Homo sapiens: one gene and its partner. The protein of the gene in region 1 interacts with the protein of each later gene in a biochemical or structural test. Each region holds a gene or a part of one and is shown on either strand. Other genes may lie near its edges.

Evidence for each region.
Region 2: the proteins of SIVA1 (region 1) and ABL2 form a complex in vitro, tested with the Homo sapiens proteins (one study listed by BioGRID).

What each region holds. Positions count from the first base shown.
Region 1 is NC_000014.9:104,748,813-104,756,150, forward strand, and holds the start of SIVA1 (apoptosis regulatory protein Siva), read left to right. Parts: upstream 1-4,334; 5' UTR 4,335-4,389; coding exon 4,390-4,507; exon of another isoform or gene 4,508-5,659; intron 5,660-6,817; coding exon 6,818-7,012; intron 7,013-7,338. UniProt on the Homo sapiens protein: Induces CD27-mediated apoptosis. Inhibits BCL2L1 isoform Bcl-x(L) anti-apoptotic activity. Inhibits activation of NF-kappa-B and promotes T-cell receptor-mediated apoptosis.
Region 2 is NC_000001.11:179,226,662-179,234,161, reverse strand, and holds the start of ABL2 (tyrosine-protein kinase ABL2), read left to right. Parts: upstream 1-4,484; 5' UTR 4,485-4,764; coding exon 4,765-4,921; intron 4,922-7,500. UniProt on the Homo sapiens protein: Non-receptor tyrosine-protein kinase that plays an ABL1-overlapping role in key processes linked to cell growth and survival such as cytoskeleton remodeling in response to extracellular stimuli, cell motility and adhesion and receptor endocytosis.

The DNA.
Region 1 (7,338 bases):
GTAGTGAATTCTTATCATTTTATGACAATATTTATTCAGAATGGCATCCATTCTGAATAAAAGTGGGACTTTCTGGTACAGAAGCAGGGCTCAGTCATTCTTGACAGTTTCTAGCTCCTCACCTCCTCCCAGTTGCCCAGGGTGGTCCACCCAGATCTCTGCTTTATACACCTGCCAGCTGGTGACCAGCTCCCTATGGGACACCTGGATACAACCTACTGGACTCAGCCCCTGGCCCCCACACCCCTCACGGACTGTGCAGACGTGCCACAGTGACCACCACCCAGTCACAGCAAGATGCCATGAAGCTGATGCCTGCCGGCTCGAAATCACACCCCACAGGAAATGCACTTGAGTAACAACACCCTGGACCTGAATACAGATTTGGTGCACAGGCCGCTGGCTCGCTCCCCACCATCTGGCTGGGCCTGCCTGTTCCCCGTGGCTCCCCCTCCCCACTGGCCTGTGAGGAACGCTGCCTCCTCGCTCCCGCCCGGTTGAGTCACACACCTGCTCTGCAGTTTCATGTGTTCTGCTGTGCTGCCTCCTCCAGCTCTCACCTGACCCTTGCACCCAAACCTCACTCTCCTGGTCAGGACTCTCCCAGAGAGACCATCATGATAGGAATGAACTGATCACTGCTCAGACAAAAGCCACAGGCTGCCTGCCAAAGCCTAGAAGCAAGCTGCTGGTGAGAGGAATGCCAGCACAGCTGGATACACAGGCCTGAGGCCATCAGCCAGGGTCAGGAGGCATCCCACGAGAGCACACACTGTAACCCCATGCCCACCGCCCCCAGAGCCCCATCAGGGAAGGGCCAAAGTTTACAGCCACTCTCCAGGAGAGACCTCAAGACGAATTAGAGGAAAACTATGACAATGATTTTGTTTAATGATAATTTTCCTTTTTCCTAGCACTCTGGAAAGCTGCCAGTTTCTTTACAAGTTAACCATCAATCTGATGCAGGGCAGGTGAGCCCCAAAATTGGGGCTTAACCCTGGAGGGTTCATGGCTTCACCCAGGAAGGCATTCAAGGGTGAGCCAGTGGTGTTAGCCAGGCAAGTTTGTTAAAGCAGCAGAATCCTACCCAGCAACCTCTGAGGAACCGGCATGTGGCCTGGGGGACAGCCCCACTCCATAAGCTGCCCGATGTTCTGTATCTGTCCACGATGGTGATGAGACCCTAGGAGAGTTGCAAGTCTGAACACAGGGAAATCTTTAGAAATCCCCACGATCCATAAGATTGAAAACAATCCTCCTCTCTGAGAACTTCATCTATTTCTGGGATAAACCAAATCTGTGTTTAGTCACACGTGACTCCAACTGAGTAACTTTCAAGTCATTTCCCTAAGGCAGAAAAAATTCTCCATTATGCCAGCAAAGTGGCAAGGAAGAGCCAAGAATGCTTGATCCCATCCCCACCACAGGGAACCCTGCACGGCAGGAGGAGAAAGGACATCTAAGCTGGAGACTGGTAAGGTTTCAGCCACCCATGGCTAGGAAAGCATACACTGCCTCTGAGGGGGCGTGGGCAGCTGCAACACGGGAGTCACGTGGGAGGGGTTTGCGGGACTCCAGGCATCACCTCTTCACACCGGAGGCAACACCGATGGAGTCGTGAGAACATAGTCCAGGTGTGTCCAGAATTGGTGGGTTCTTGATCTCACTGACTTTAAGAATGAAGCACTAGGTCCTCACAGTTGACTGTTACAGTTCTTAAAATTGTTATGTCTGCAGTTTGTTCCTTCTGATGTTTGGACGTGTTTGGAGTTTGTTCCTTCTGGCAGACTCACGGTCTTGCTGGCTTCAGGAGTGGAGCTGCAGACCTTCACAAGGAGTGTTACAGCTCTTAAGGCAGTGTGTCTGGAGCTGTTCATTCCTCCCGGTGGGTTTGTGGCTTTGCTGGCCTCAGAAGTGAAGCTACACACCTTCCCAGTGAGTGTTACAGCTCATAAAAAGTGTGGACCCAAAGAGTGAAAGAGCAAAGCCCCAAACATGTGGCAGAACACCAACACGTTCCCACTGCCTGCTCGGGCGGCCTGCTTTTATTCCCTTATCTGGCCCCACCCATATCCTGCTGATTGGTCCATTTTACAGAGGGCTGGTCTGTTTTACAGAAAGCTGATTGGTCCGTCTTGACAGGGCGCTGATTGGTGTGTTTACAATCCCTGAGCTAGACACAGAAGTTCTCCAAGTCCCCACAGAGCACTGATTGGTGCATTTACAAACCTTGAGCTAGATACAGGGTGCTGATTGGTGTCTTTACAAACCTTGAGCTAGACACAGAGTGCTGATTGGTGTATTTACAGTCCCTTAGCTAGACATAAAGGTTCTCCAAGTCCCCACCAGATTAGCTAGATACAGAGTGCTGATTGGTACATTTACAAACCTTGAGCTAAACACAGAGTGCTGACTGGTGCGTCCACAATCCCACAGCTAGACATAAAGGTTCTCCAAATCCCCACCAGATTAGCTGGATACAGAGTGCCCATGGGTGCATCTACAAACCTTGAGCTAGACACAGGGTACCGATTGGTGAGTTTACAAACCTTGAGCTAAACACAGTGCTGATTGGTGTATTTACAATCCCTTAGCTTGACATAAAGGTTCTCCAAGTCGCCGCTAGACTCAGGAGCCCAGCTGGCTTCACCTAGTGGATCCCACACCGGGGCTGCAGGTGGAGCTGCCCGCCAGTCCCGCGCCGTGCGCCCGCACTCCTCAGCCCTTGGGCGGTCGATGGGACCGGGTGCCGCGGAGCAGGGGGCCGCGCAAGAGCCCACGGCAGGGGGGAGACTCAGGCATGGCGGGCTGCAGGTCCTGAGCCCTGCCTCGCGGGGAGGCAGCTGAGGCCCGGTGAGAATTCGAGCGCAGCGCCGGCGGGCCGGCACTGGTGGGGGACCCGGCGCATCCTCCGCAGCTGCTGGCCCGGGTGCTAAGCTCCTCACTGCCTGGGGCCGGTGGCTCCGATTGCGGGGCCCGCCGAGCCCACGCCCACCCGGAACTCACGCTGACCCGCAAGCGCCACGTGCAGCCCGGGTTCCCGCCCGCACCTCTCCCTCCACACCTCCCTGCAAGCTGAGGGAGCCGGCTCCGGCCGCGGCCAGCCCAGAGAGGGGCTCCCACAGTGCAGCGGCGGGCTGAAGGGCCCCTCGAGCGCGGCCAGAGTGGGCGCCGAGAGCGAGCGAGGGCTGCCAGCACGCTGTCATCTCTCACAGGGCGAAGCCCACGCCACAGGACGGGTCGGTTCTGTACCCGCCGGGGCAGGGGAGAGCCGCCTCTGGTGAGCAGAACCCCGGAGAAGGGACGACGCGGGTGCACCTCGCGGCATGGGGACACCAAGTCAGACGAACCCGCTGTGCAAGAACATTTTCCACACAGCGGCGCATACCCCCGCCCGGGGGCGCTCGGCAGCCGCACGCGGCCCTCAGAGCGCAGCCCCCACACGCCTTTACTTCTGGAAGGCGGAGACCGCCACAGTGAGGAGCTAAGCCAGCTGAGGCAACACAGAAAAACCCCCGTTCCTACCCAAAACCAAAAAGCGGGGCGCGGAGGCGCGCGCCTGCGGTCCCAGCTACCGGGGAGGCCGAGAAGGGAGGATCGCCTGAGCCCGGGAGGCGCAAGCTACAGTGAGCCGAGACTGCCACTGCACTCAGTCTGGGTGACAGAGCGAGACCCTGTCTCTAAAGGGGAAAAAAGAGCTAGGAAGAAGCGGGCTGCCTCTTAACTTCGGAGAAGTAAATGAGGAACTATAACCAGTGTCTACCGTTTAGGAACCAAACAAAAGCTGACAGGAATCCCGCCACCGACCCAGCCGCCCCAGACTTTGCCCTGGCCTATCCCGCGCCGCTCCTCAAACTAGACCCGCCCCGACGTCGCCCTGGCCTATCCCACGCCGATCCTCAAACGAGGCCCGCCCCCGATGCACAAGCTCCGCCCTCGTTGCACCGTCCTGACCCTCGGCCTCGCCCCCGCCCCCTGGCTCTTCCCGCGCAGCCGAATGCCGCGACCTGGCTCCCACCCTTCGTCGCTTCGCGCCGCATAGGAACCCCGCCCCTAGTCTCTCCTCCCGCCTATCCTGAGCGGCGCGCGCACAAATCTCTCCCACGGACCCGCCCACCCTGATCCTCAACCTGGCCCCTGGCCTTTCCCGCGGCGTCGAGTCCAGTACACCGACGCACGAGTCCCACCCCCGATCTCTCCCTCGGCCTATCCCGCGCCGCTCCGCGCAGGAGTCCCGCCTCCCACTTCGCCCGCAGCCTATGACGCGCCGCGTCGCTCCCTCTCCTCAAACCCGCTCTCGCCCGCGGATGGGCGCGCAGCTGTGACGTCACGGCGTCGTTGGTAAGGGGCTGGCGGCCGGGGAGCTGCGTAGCTCCCGGCCCCGCGGCCATGCCCAAGCGGAGCTGCCCCTTCGCGGACGTGGCCCCGCTACAGCTCAAGGTCCGCGTGAGCCAGAGGGAGTTGAGCCGCGGCGTGTGCGCCGAGCGCTACTCGCAGGAGGTCTTCGGTGAGTGTCGGGCGGGCTGCCGAGGGTCCGCTGCGTCGGGGCCTGGAACGGGCCGGGCCTCAGCGTCCCCTCTGAGGCCTGAGCGGGGGGCTGGAGGGCCCTGCTTTCTGGCCCCGCGTTCCCGGAAGCTGGGAGGCCGCGGGGACACAAGCTGGCCACGCCCAGGGCTGGGGTCAGTGAGGGGGATGTGAGGACCCCAGCGTTCGCCCACCCTGTCCAACAGCCTGAAAGAAAAGGGTCCCTGCCCCTAGCCCCCGCGCCCTCTTCCACGATCCCGGTTAGTCGCCGCCCTGCAGTGAGCGGCACCCGCCTGGTGCTTTCTCAGGACTGTCCCGTGCAGGATGTCCTGGGAGAGGTTGGGGAGCGGGGCGTCCTGCATGGAGTCAACCCGAAGAGTGCCCCTCCTGTCCCAAGAGGTATTCATGGAGCGCGCGGCCCTGCCAGGCACGGCGGCTTTCTCGGGAGACCAAAGGCAGGCAAGACAGATGTGCCCCGTCTCCCGGGAGCTCCCCAGCCTAGTTGGGGAGACCAGCAGGAGGAGTCGCCACAGGTGGTCGGGGCAGGCACAGGTTTGTGCAGGCGCACCTGCAGGGATGGCACGGAAGGCTTCTTGGAAGAACAGTCTGAGCGGAATCCTGTGGGGGCGAGTAGGAGTTAGCCAGGCAGAGGAAGGGAAGGAAGAGGGCGAGGCAGAAGCCAGGCAGCAGGAGAGCGAAATAGGACTCCGTGTGGCTGCAGTGTCCAGTTCTGGGTGGGATGTGAGGGCAGTGAGCTCCCAGGCCTTCTCTGGCTTTCTCCTGTGGATTTCAGGCGTGTTGATCTTATTGATCATCACTCTGACTGGGGTGATTAATACCCTGGGGCAGGTAAAAAGTGGAGCTTACCTTGCCTAGTGATTGGGACACAAAGTCTGCACCTGTAGAGCAGTTAGAGGATGACCCGGGGTGTGTGATTTACCTGGTGCCGCTTGTGCCTTGGGAATGAGGGAAAGACTCTGCCTCCCGAGGTTCCTCTGTGCGGTGTCTCCAGTGTGCTAGGGCTGTGAAAGCGAGTGCTATTCTGGGCCATGGGGAGGTAAGGGGAATGATGCCGTGGGAACTGTGGCAGGACCGCAATCGTGTGCCCTCTCAGGACAGTTGAAAAATTCAAACACTGTGCAGGCAAGAAGAGGAAGATGGAAATGGGGCCTGGCTCAGTATGGCCCTTTATTCTTCCCGAGTGTCCTGACCTGGGCGTTGGCAGGTGTGTGCCACTCACCGGGTCAGGTCAGGGAGGTCTGCTGGGTGCAGTGGGCCTTCCATGGTAAATGCAGGACACCTACTTTGAACTGTGTGACAGTTTCCAAATTCCAGGCCACAGCTGTTACCCTGATCTCTTAACCTCGAATTGTCCACAAGGCCTTGAGGACAAGGATTAGCCTCACCACGTGTCTGTCCCATTCCTTTCCCCTTATAGATGGGGGAAGGTGTGGGGGGCCAGGAGGAAGGTGCAGGGTGTTGTGGGCTGGCATCAGCTACTCCATGTGAGTTACCCTGTCACTATTATTGCTGCCCACTTCATGTAGAGCCACATAGAGTTTCTGGGATCTCTGCCTTTACTGTGTTATGGTGAGGTGCAAAACAAAAAACAAAGCATTTCTGGGTCTGGCCCTGGGCATCTGATTTTTCAAAGCTCCCCAGGTGACTGAACTGTGGCCTGATGGAAAACCACTGCTCCCAGGGATGGGTGGGTGTTCTAGAACAAGAGGTCTGGAAGGTTCTGGGATGCTTGTCTTGCCAGCAACTCTGTAGCAGGTGAAGGGGGTGTGCTCTGGCCAGAGGCTGTAGGCCCAGCTCCAAGCCTCTGGCTGCTTCCTTGGCAGGGGACGAGTTTTGTGAATTAGTGCTCCACAGTGCAGAGCTCCCTCTGTGCATTCCACAGAGCCTGGTTTCCAGGTGGGGAGTGCTGGGGAAGCAGAAAAGGGAGAAAGGGGACAAGCTTAGTGAGGCGAGGCCAGCCGTGAATTGCAGAAAATGAGCCGAGTGATAGGAGAGGGAACCCTTGCATCAGACACAGGTGGGGCTGCAGGGCCAGAGCCTTCCTGGAGGAGATGACAGCTAAGCCAGGTAAGGAAAGGACGCACAAGCATTCTCAGCATAGAGGCAGAGCAGGACCCAGCTCGCCAGGGCACAACACAGGCTGGGGTTACTGGGAGACAGAGGGCACACAGGAGGACGATGGGGTTCATGTGAGGCTAGAAAGACTCAATGGCCATGCAGGGGCTTCGTTGGTACACAGTGAAGGACGTGAGAATGATTTATCTTCCCCCAGAGAAGACCAAGCGACTCCTGTTCCTCGGGGCCCAGGCCTACCTGGACCACGTGTGGGATGAAGGCTGTGCCGTCGTTCACCTGCCAGAGTCCCCAAAGCCTGGCCCTACAGGGGCCCCGAGGGCTGCACGTGGGCAGATGCTGATTGGACCAGACGGCCGCCTGATCAGGAGCCTTGGGCAGGCCTCCGAAGCTGGTGAGTGGCACCAGCAGCCCTTTGTGGCTGTGGCACTGAGGGCAGGTGGTGGCACGAGCATTTTTCTTGATTTGCAAGGTCAGGCTTTTCCTCCCTGGGTAAGCAGGACTCTGACCCAGAGCTTGGCCTTCTGGCTCAGAAGGCTCCTGTTATCAGGAGGTCTCACATTCAAGACTGGAAGTTGTTAAACAGCTTCTAAGTACTGGGCCAAAAAAGCAGCAGAGACTCCCCGGGTATCCCGTCTGCTTTCCGCCTGCAGCCCCCTCAGATAGTCCCACAAGGCTGGAAACATGCCAGTCCCATCCCTATGCAGTGTGGGGTCTCAG
Region 2 (7,500 bases), on another chromosome or scaffold:
AAAAAAAAGAAAGAAAAGAAAAAGGAAAATGCTATACGTAAAATTACAACAAAATTTTTTTCTCTCAATTTATCTACATAAACATTTTCAGCCCACGTAGATAAATATAGATAGATAAACATAACTATATAAACATGCATATATGCAAGAAAATAAAAGATTTGGGGAAACATGATAGCTTTCAAATATGTGAAAGATTTCATGTAGAATAAAGATTATATTTGTTCTGTGTAGCTACATGGTAGAATTAGAACTGGGGTGAAACAGGTGGAAGTTTCAGGGGAACATTTTTCAGTTTATCTTTAGGAAGAACTTTTTTTTTGAGACTGAGTCTGGCTCTGTCACCCAGGCTGGAGTGCAATGGTGTGATCTCAGCTCACTGTAAGCTCCGCCTCCTGGGTTCATGCCATTCTCCTGAATCAGCCTCCTGAGTAGCTGGGATTACAGGCGCCTGCCACCACGCCCGGCTAATTTTTTGTATTTTTGGTAGAGATGGGGTTTCACCATGTTAGCCAGGATGGTCTCGATCTCCTGACCTTGTGATCCGCCCACTTTGGCCTCCCAAAGTGCTGGGATTACAGGCGTGAGCCACTGCGCCTGGCCCAGGAAGTATGTTTTAATAATTAGAACCTTTTGAAAGAAATGGATACCCTCACTGGAATTACTGCAGAGAGGATTCCAGATTAGCCTACATGACCTCTAAGTTTCTTTCCAACTCTATGACACTTGAGTCATGTGTCAAAACAAAACAGCCGGGTGCGGTGGCTCACGCCTGTAATCCCAGCACTTTGGGAGGCCAAGGCAGATGGATCACAAGGTCAGGAGATCGAGACTATCCTGGCTAACACGGTGAAATCCCATCTCTTCTAAAAAACAAAAAATTAGCCGGGTGTAGTGGTGGTCGCCTGTAGTCCCAGCTACTCGGGAGGCTGAGGCAGGAGAATGGTGTGAACCCGGGAGGCGGAGCTTGCAGTGAGCCGAGATCGCGCCACTGCACTCCAGCCTGGGGGACAGAGCGAGACTCCATATCAAAAACAAAAAACAAAAAACAAAAAACCATATTTGAGGGATGTAGAGGAAGGTAAGCGAATTTTATAACGAAAGAATTATTACCAGTTGTGGTTAAGGCCTGTACTGAATAGAGTCCGAGGAAACTGTTAGGTCTGTATTAATAAGTCTGAGGTTCTCTTATCAAGGAGGCAGGATCTGAATAGAATACTGAAGAGGACAGTAGAATCCTGTAAGGGAGTCACTCGAGACTTATATTAGGGAGAATATAATTATTGCAAAACTCATAGCTAAAAGGGATACATCTCAGAAATAGGCTAATTGGATAAAGTATGTATGCCTGCCATAGGAAAGGTGGAGGTTGGAGGAACAGGAGATGGAAGAACATTAGGCAATTATAATCCAGTTATCCTGGAAAATAACTTCGAAACACTAGGTGAAACGTTTATTTTGTTTATTTATTTATTTATTTATTTATTTTTGAGACAGAGACTCCCTCTGTCACCTAGGCTGGGGTGCAGTGGCGCAATCTCCTGTCACTGCAACTTCCGCCTCCTGGGCTCAAGCAATTCGCCTGCCTCAGGTTCCCCAGTAGCTGGGATTACAGGCACGCGCCCCCACGATTGGCTAGTTTTTGCATTTTTAGTAGAGACGGGGTTTCACCATATTGGCCTGACTGGTCTTAAACTCCTGACCTCAAGTGATCCGCCCACCTTGGCCTCCCAAAGTGCTGGGATTACAAACATGAGCCACTGTGCCCGGCCCATTAGGTGAAAATTTTAGACTTAAGACTTTGTACGTAATGAATGAGAGGGAGAGTGTGGTCAAAGCAATGAGAGAAGCAGTTTCTTTGAGTGAGTTGCTTGGTGCTAAAGGTGAGGAATCTCTAGGAAGAAAGGGCTAGTAGCGGGAGAAACCAGCGCAGAGATGCCTAAGCTAACACTGTGTCTTACATAACGCTGTTTATATAGATGAAGGGAAGAGGTAGATATGAGAGATACTGTAAAACTGTAAAAAGTATGGCAATAGCCTAGAAATGCAGACTGGTGAAGTCAGGGATTGGTGAGGCATTACTCACAAGCTCCTTCCTTCTGGAGAGAGTGGTGTTGCTCCTGTGATAAGGATGATGAGGATGAAGAGTATCTGTGTCTTCAGCACGCCTTACTGCTGTTGGTGATGTGTCTGATCTTTTATGCTGGCCTCTGGCCATTGCTCAAATTTATATATATATATATATATAAAATTTGAAAAAGTTAGGCTTGTAAAACCTAAAACCATTATGTTTTTTGTATTAATAGTATATGCATATATGACACCAGTTATATGCCAAATACTGTTTTAAGTACTATACATATATATTGACTAATTTAATTTTCACAATATTCCTATAAGGTAGATACTATTTGTTATCATCATCAGTTTACAGATAATGTACTGAGACACAAAAAGGTTATGTACTTTGCCCAGATCAAATAGTCCATAAGTATCAGGGCCAAGTTATGAACCCAAGCAGTCTGGCTTCAGAGCCCCTGCCCTTAGCCACTGCACTCTACTGCAGGCTGAGCAGCCCTTATCAGAAATGTTCGGACCACAAGTGTTTCAGATTTGGGAATATTTACACACACATAATGAGATATCTTGGGCATGCGACCCAAGTCTAAACACAAAATTCATTTATGTTTCATATACACCTTTATACACATAGCTTGAATGCAATTTAATACAATATTTTAAAAATTTTGTGCATGAAACAAAGTTTATGTTAAGTACTTACGTGAAATGTTCCACCTCTGGCATCATATTGGTGCTCAAAAAATTTCGAATTTTGCAGCATTTTGGATTTTCAGATTTGAGATGTTCAACCCATATATTCATCTATCTTTATATAGTATGCATGAATTAGCAGAGAAACCAAACCATTATCCCCAAATTAAAATTTTCTCCCATAATAAAAATCAAACAGTAAACCAAATTCCGGCTCTGTGACATCTTTATCCCTTTCGAATGAATTTTTTTCAGTAGTTGCAAACACTGGGAATTAGAAGAAAAGACAGGTATTTTAAACACAGGGAAACTTTAATCCAAATGGAAAGTTCATATTTTATCCAGTGTTTACACATAGTGTTTCCGTTCCCATTTTGGAGTTAATTTCAGTTATTTCTGGCTACACCCTAGATGGCAATGGAATAATTTCATAGTGCTTTTACAACAGGCAATATCTACGTCAGTGGATGGTTCATCTAAGGTCAACCTGGTTCAGGAAAGATATGCAAAGGAGAGCTTCATCCACCTCTTCTCCCAACCCTACATTTCCAGTGGTTGTTTTGTTCCTTCTTTGCAGTGGCTCCCGTCCTGTCTAATTTAAGCAAAATTTCAGTGTAGTACCTCCATTAACTGATACTTTTTATAAAGCAAATTGGGAAGCCAAAAGAATAACAGGAGAATGATCAAGATTTGAGAATTAAAAAAAATTGAATTAAGATGCAAGTAAACACAGTGGGAGAGGGGGATGGCGAGTCAATTGTATATAGTATATGTGTATGTATAAAACGCTTCTTTTCTGCCTCATTCACTCTCTTTAGACTGCATAAGCTAAAATGAGTAAGTTCTGACTCAGAAACAGGGTCAAAGATATATATTTTTTCTCCTTTGTCATCAAAAGAAGACCTGACCACGTGCACAGTGTATAAAGGATGCCAGTGGGAAGATTAACTTTACTGTCAGGCATTGTAAGGAAACAGAAACTCACATATGGTGAGATGGTAAAGGAGTTCAAGAGGAATTCATGGTAATATAATATGAGGAATGGGGCTACAATTGCGTCCCCAATGAGACTATAGAAGGCACACAATCCAGGCCAGTGCGATTTAACATCATGAAATAATCTCCAAAAATTAAAATCAAATAAGGTAGCATTTTACTCTCTTCTTGTAAATTTTATACCATTTTAATTTTTACTGGAGGCCTGCTGCTGACAAGGGTGTTTAAAAGAGATCCCCCTGGGTATTTTAGAGCTCCTTAACTGGATGGCAAGGACCAAATAAATGCCTTGTGCTTTTCTGCCCCACCTGTGCCTGCACCTGAGCTGCGCACGCGGTGGCACTGAGCCCTCGACTCACTCATTTGACAGGTGGAGGTGGGATGGGGAAGGCCGGAGACCGACCAACCCCAAAGGCGGTAGCGTGTGGAGCCGAACGCGGGAGGGGGTCGGCTGAGGCGGATTGAGGGGGGGGACGCCGAGGTGCGGCGACAGGACGCGGAGGACGAAAGACCTCAAGCAGCGGTGGCCGGCAAATGAGGTGGGCACTGGGGGACCCACCCTGCGAGGAGGCGGGGGCGGGGACGGGGGGCGCGGCGCGGCAGGGCGGGGCGGCAGCCGGGAAGCCCTCCTTCCCCGCGGCGGAGGTGACTGGCGGGCGGGGGGCGGGGGGCGGGGGGCGGGAGACGCTCTGTCCCACGCTTTCCCAGCGCTCGGTGGTTTAAAGATGGCGGCGGCGGTGGCGGCGGCGGCGGCGGCGGCGTTGGGGGCGCGGAGCCGCGACAGGAGGAGGGAAAAGCAGAATCTGTGAGTCGCCTGGAGGCAGCGCGGCGGCTGCCGTGAGGAGGCCGGGTGCGGAGCCGCCGGTGGCCCAGCCACTCAGGGCCAGGGCCTGGGCTGGGAGGGAGAGACCGGAGCAGCGCCAGGAGCCCGAGGCCGGAGCCGAGGAGGAATGTGACCAGGGGTCGGCGGGGGCGCGGGAGTACGCGAGAGCAGGGATGGGGCAGCAGGTGGGCCGCGTCGGGGAAGCTCCGGGGCTCCAGCAGCCTCAGCCCCGCGGGATCCGGGGCAGCAGTGCAGCCAGGCCCTCCGGCCGCAGGCGGGACCCGGCGGGGCGCACCACAGAGACCGGCTTCAATATCTTCACCCAGCATGGTGAGTGTGTCTGGGAGCCGGCATGAGAGCGTGGGGGAGGCCGGGGGTGGGGTCGGGGCGGGGTGGGTGGCGGACGGGCTGCCCGAGGGGTCGGAGGGTGGAAGGTGCCTGAGAGTGGGGGCGGAATCCGCTGCCATCTGGTCCAGTCCTGGGAGGCGAGTCACACCCCTCCCCCCTCGCGTCTCTAGCCTGGCTGGCAGATCCCGGGGGCGGAGAAGGAAAGAGAAGTGGGTTTGGGGACCCTGGATGGTCTGTCCTCTACTCTGGGACGGGACTATGCGGCTGCAGAAAGAAAGTGAATGGCAGCTTCAGGAGAGGGAAGGATGAAGGGCAGTATTAGCTCAGTCCCAGAGGTGGGAGCATAAACCCGTCGTTAGTGAAGGGGAAATGGGTTGTATCCTAAGGGATTGGGAAATGGGAACTGAATTTCAGGAGATTGTGGAGTACAAGGTATGTGTTTACGTTAGGTGATGAGCAGTGTCAGGATAGTGAACTGTGGACAGTGTCAAATGCTTTTCTGTAGGGAAGATGAAGTTAGCATCATCTTATCACTTTTGACATGCTTTTGTGGTTTATTTTGTTTTGTATTTCGTTTTTACTAGAAATGAAAGGCTTTGCCAAAGCCTCTGTACTATGCTTCAGAGTAGGACACACAATTCTGAGATTGCTGGCAAGGGCTAGAGGTTGGTGGGCATGGTTAGGACGTCAGTCAGGATATGAACAAGTTTTCCTTTGTAGTGTGTGCGTGTGCCCATATACATACATACATGTATGTATGCTCCCTGTAGTCTGAAACCTATTATTTTGATCTCATTGTCAATGTATTTTTAGAATAGTTGTCTCCAAACTTTTTTTGTCTTGTTTTTTTGTTTTGTTTTTGTTTTTGTTTTTTTTGAGACAGAGTCTCGCTTTGGTCCCCATGATGGAGTGCAATGGCGGGATGTCGGCTCACTGCAATCTCTGCCTCCCGGGTTCAAGTGATTCTCCTGCCTCAGCCTCCCGAGTAGCTGGAACTGCAGGTGTGCACCACCACGCCCGGCTAATTTTTGTATTTTTGGTGGTGGTGGGATTTTGTCATATACTCCTGACATCAGGTAATCTGCCTGCCTTGGCCTCTCAAAGTGCTGGGATTACGGGTGTGAGCCACCACCGTTCCTGGCCCAAACTCTTTTTTTTTTTTTTTTTTTTTTGGAGACGGAGTCTCATTCTGTCGCCCAGGCTGGAGTGCAGTGGCGTGATCTTGGCTCACTGCAACCTCTGCCTCCCAGGTTCAAGCGATTCTCCTGCCTCAGCCTCGGAGTAGCTGGGATTACAGGCGCCCGCCACCACACCCGGCTAATTTTTTGTGTTTTTAGTAGGGTGGGGTTTCTCTATGTTGGCCAGGCTGGTCTCGAACGCCTGACCTCATGATCCACCCGCCACAGCCTCCCAAAGTGCTGGGATTACAGGCGTGAGGCACTGCGCCTGGCCACATGTCTCCTATTGAAGATGTGCTTGAGTGTCTCTTTCGGGTATATGAACACTTTATGAAGGTGATATATGAGCTAATCTTTATTAAAATCACTTCCTAAAACACAGGATGGAAGAATGGATTAGTAGTTTACAGGGAAGAAATCATCCAAGTAAGCTTCACTTTGTGGGAAGTGTTACTATGCATTAAACTTGGCCTAGTAGGCAATGGTGATCCTCTTGCTTTACTATCTTATTCGGTATGTAAGATTTTCCAAGAAAGAGGAAGTCATGAAGAATGGAATAGGAAGACATTTTGAGGATTTGGATCTATGGAGAGGGAGAACAATTTGGGTAGAAGAAACAACTTGAACGGGAACATGGGAATAGATATAATTTGTTGATGGGCTAGTGAGGAGACAGCTGTCAGGAATGAAGCATCATTATGAGTTGGAAGAAAAAGATCATAGAGCAAAAATTGGAAGAGTCAAGTTCTGGTTCTGGCTCCACCTGCCTGGGTGATTTTAGTCACCATCTTTGGGTTTCTTTATCTGTAAAGTGAGGAGGTTGGACTGGATGATCTCTAAGATACTTTCTGGTTTTAAGATTTTATGATTCTAATTAAGAAGCAGTAGAAAGAAAATTTTGATAGGCTGGATGGGACTGGGTTATGGAAAATCTGGCAGAGAAGTTTATATCCATTTACCTGATTGGCTAGTCTTTACCTGAAAGACTGGCCTTGAGTGGTGGCAGTGGAAATGGGAGGAGTAATTTCAAGGGTCCTTTCATTCATTCAACAAACAAGGGTTTTTTTTGAGCACCTGTTATGTACTGGATTGTGGGAATGTTGCTGTGAACATAACAGAGTCCCTGCCCTTTGGAACTTAAAGGACTTTATGATTTGATAGAGGATGAAAGAAGAGAGATCACTTTGGAGTATTTGTTAAGGGCATGAACTCTGGACCCATTTTTCCTGGATTTGAAACCTTGCTTGGCTGCTTATGAGCTTTGTGACCTGGGACAAGTTATTTAACTTTTTGTGTCTTGGACTCTTCATTTGTAAAGTGGTGATAATAATAGTACCTAGTATTAAATGAATAGTGGCTGGGCACATAGTATGAGCTAAATGT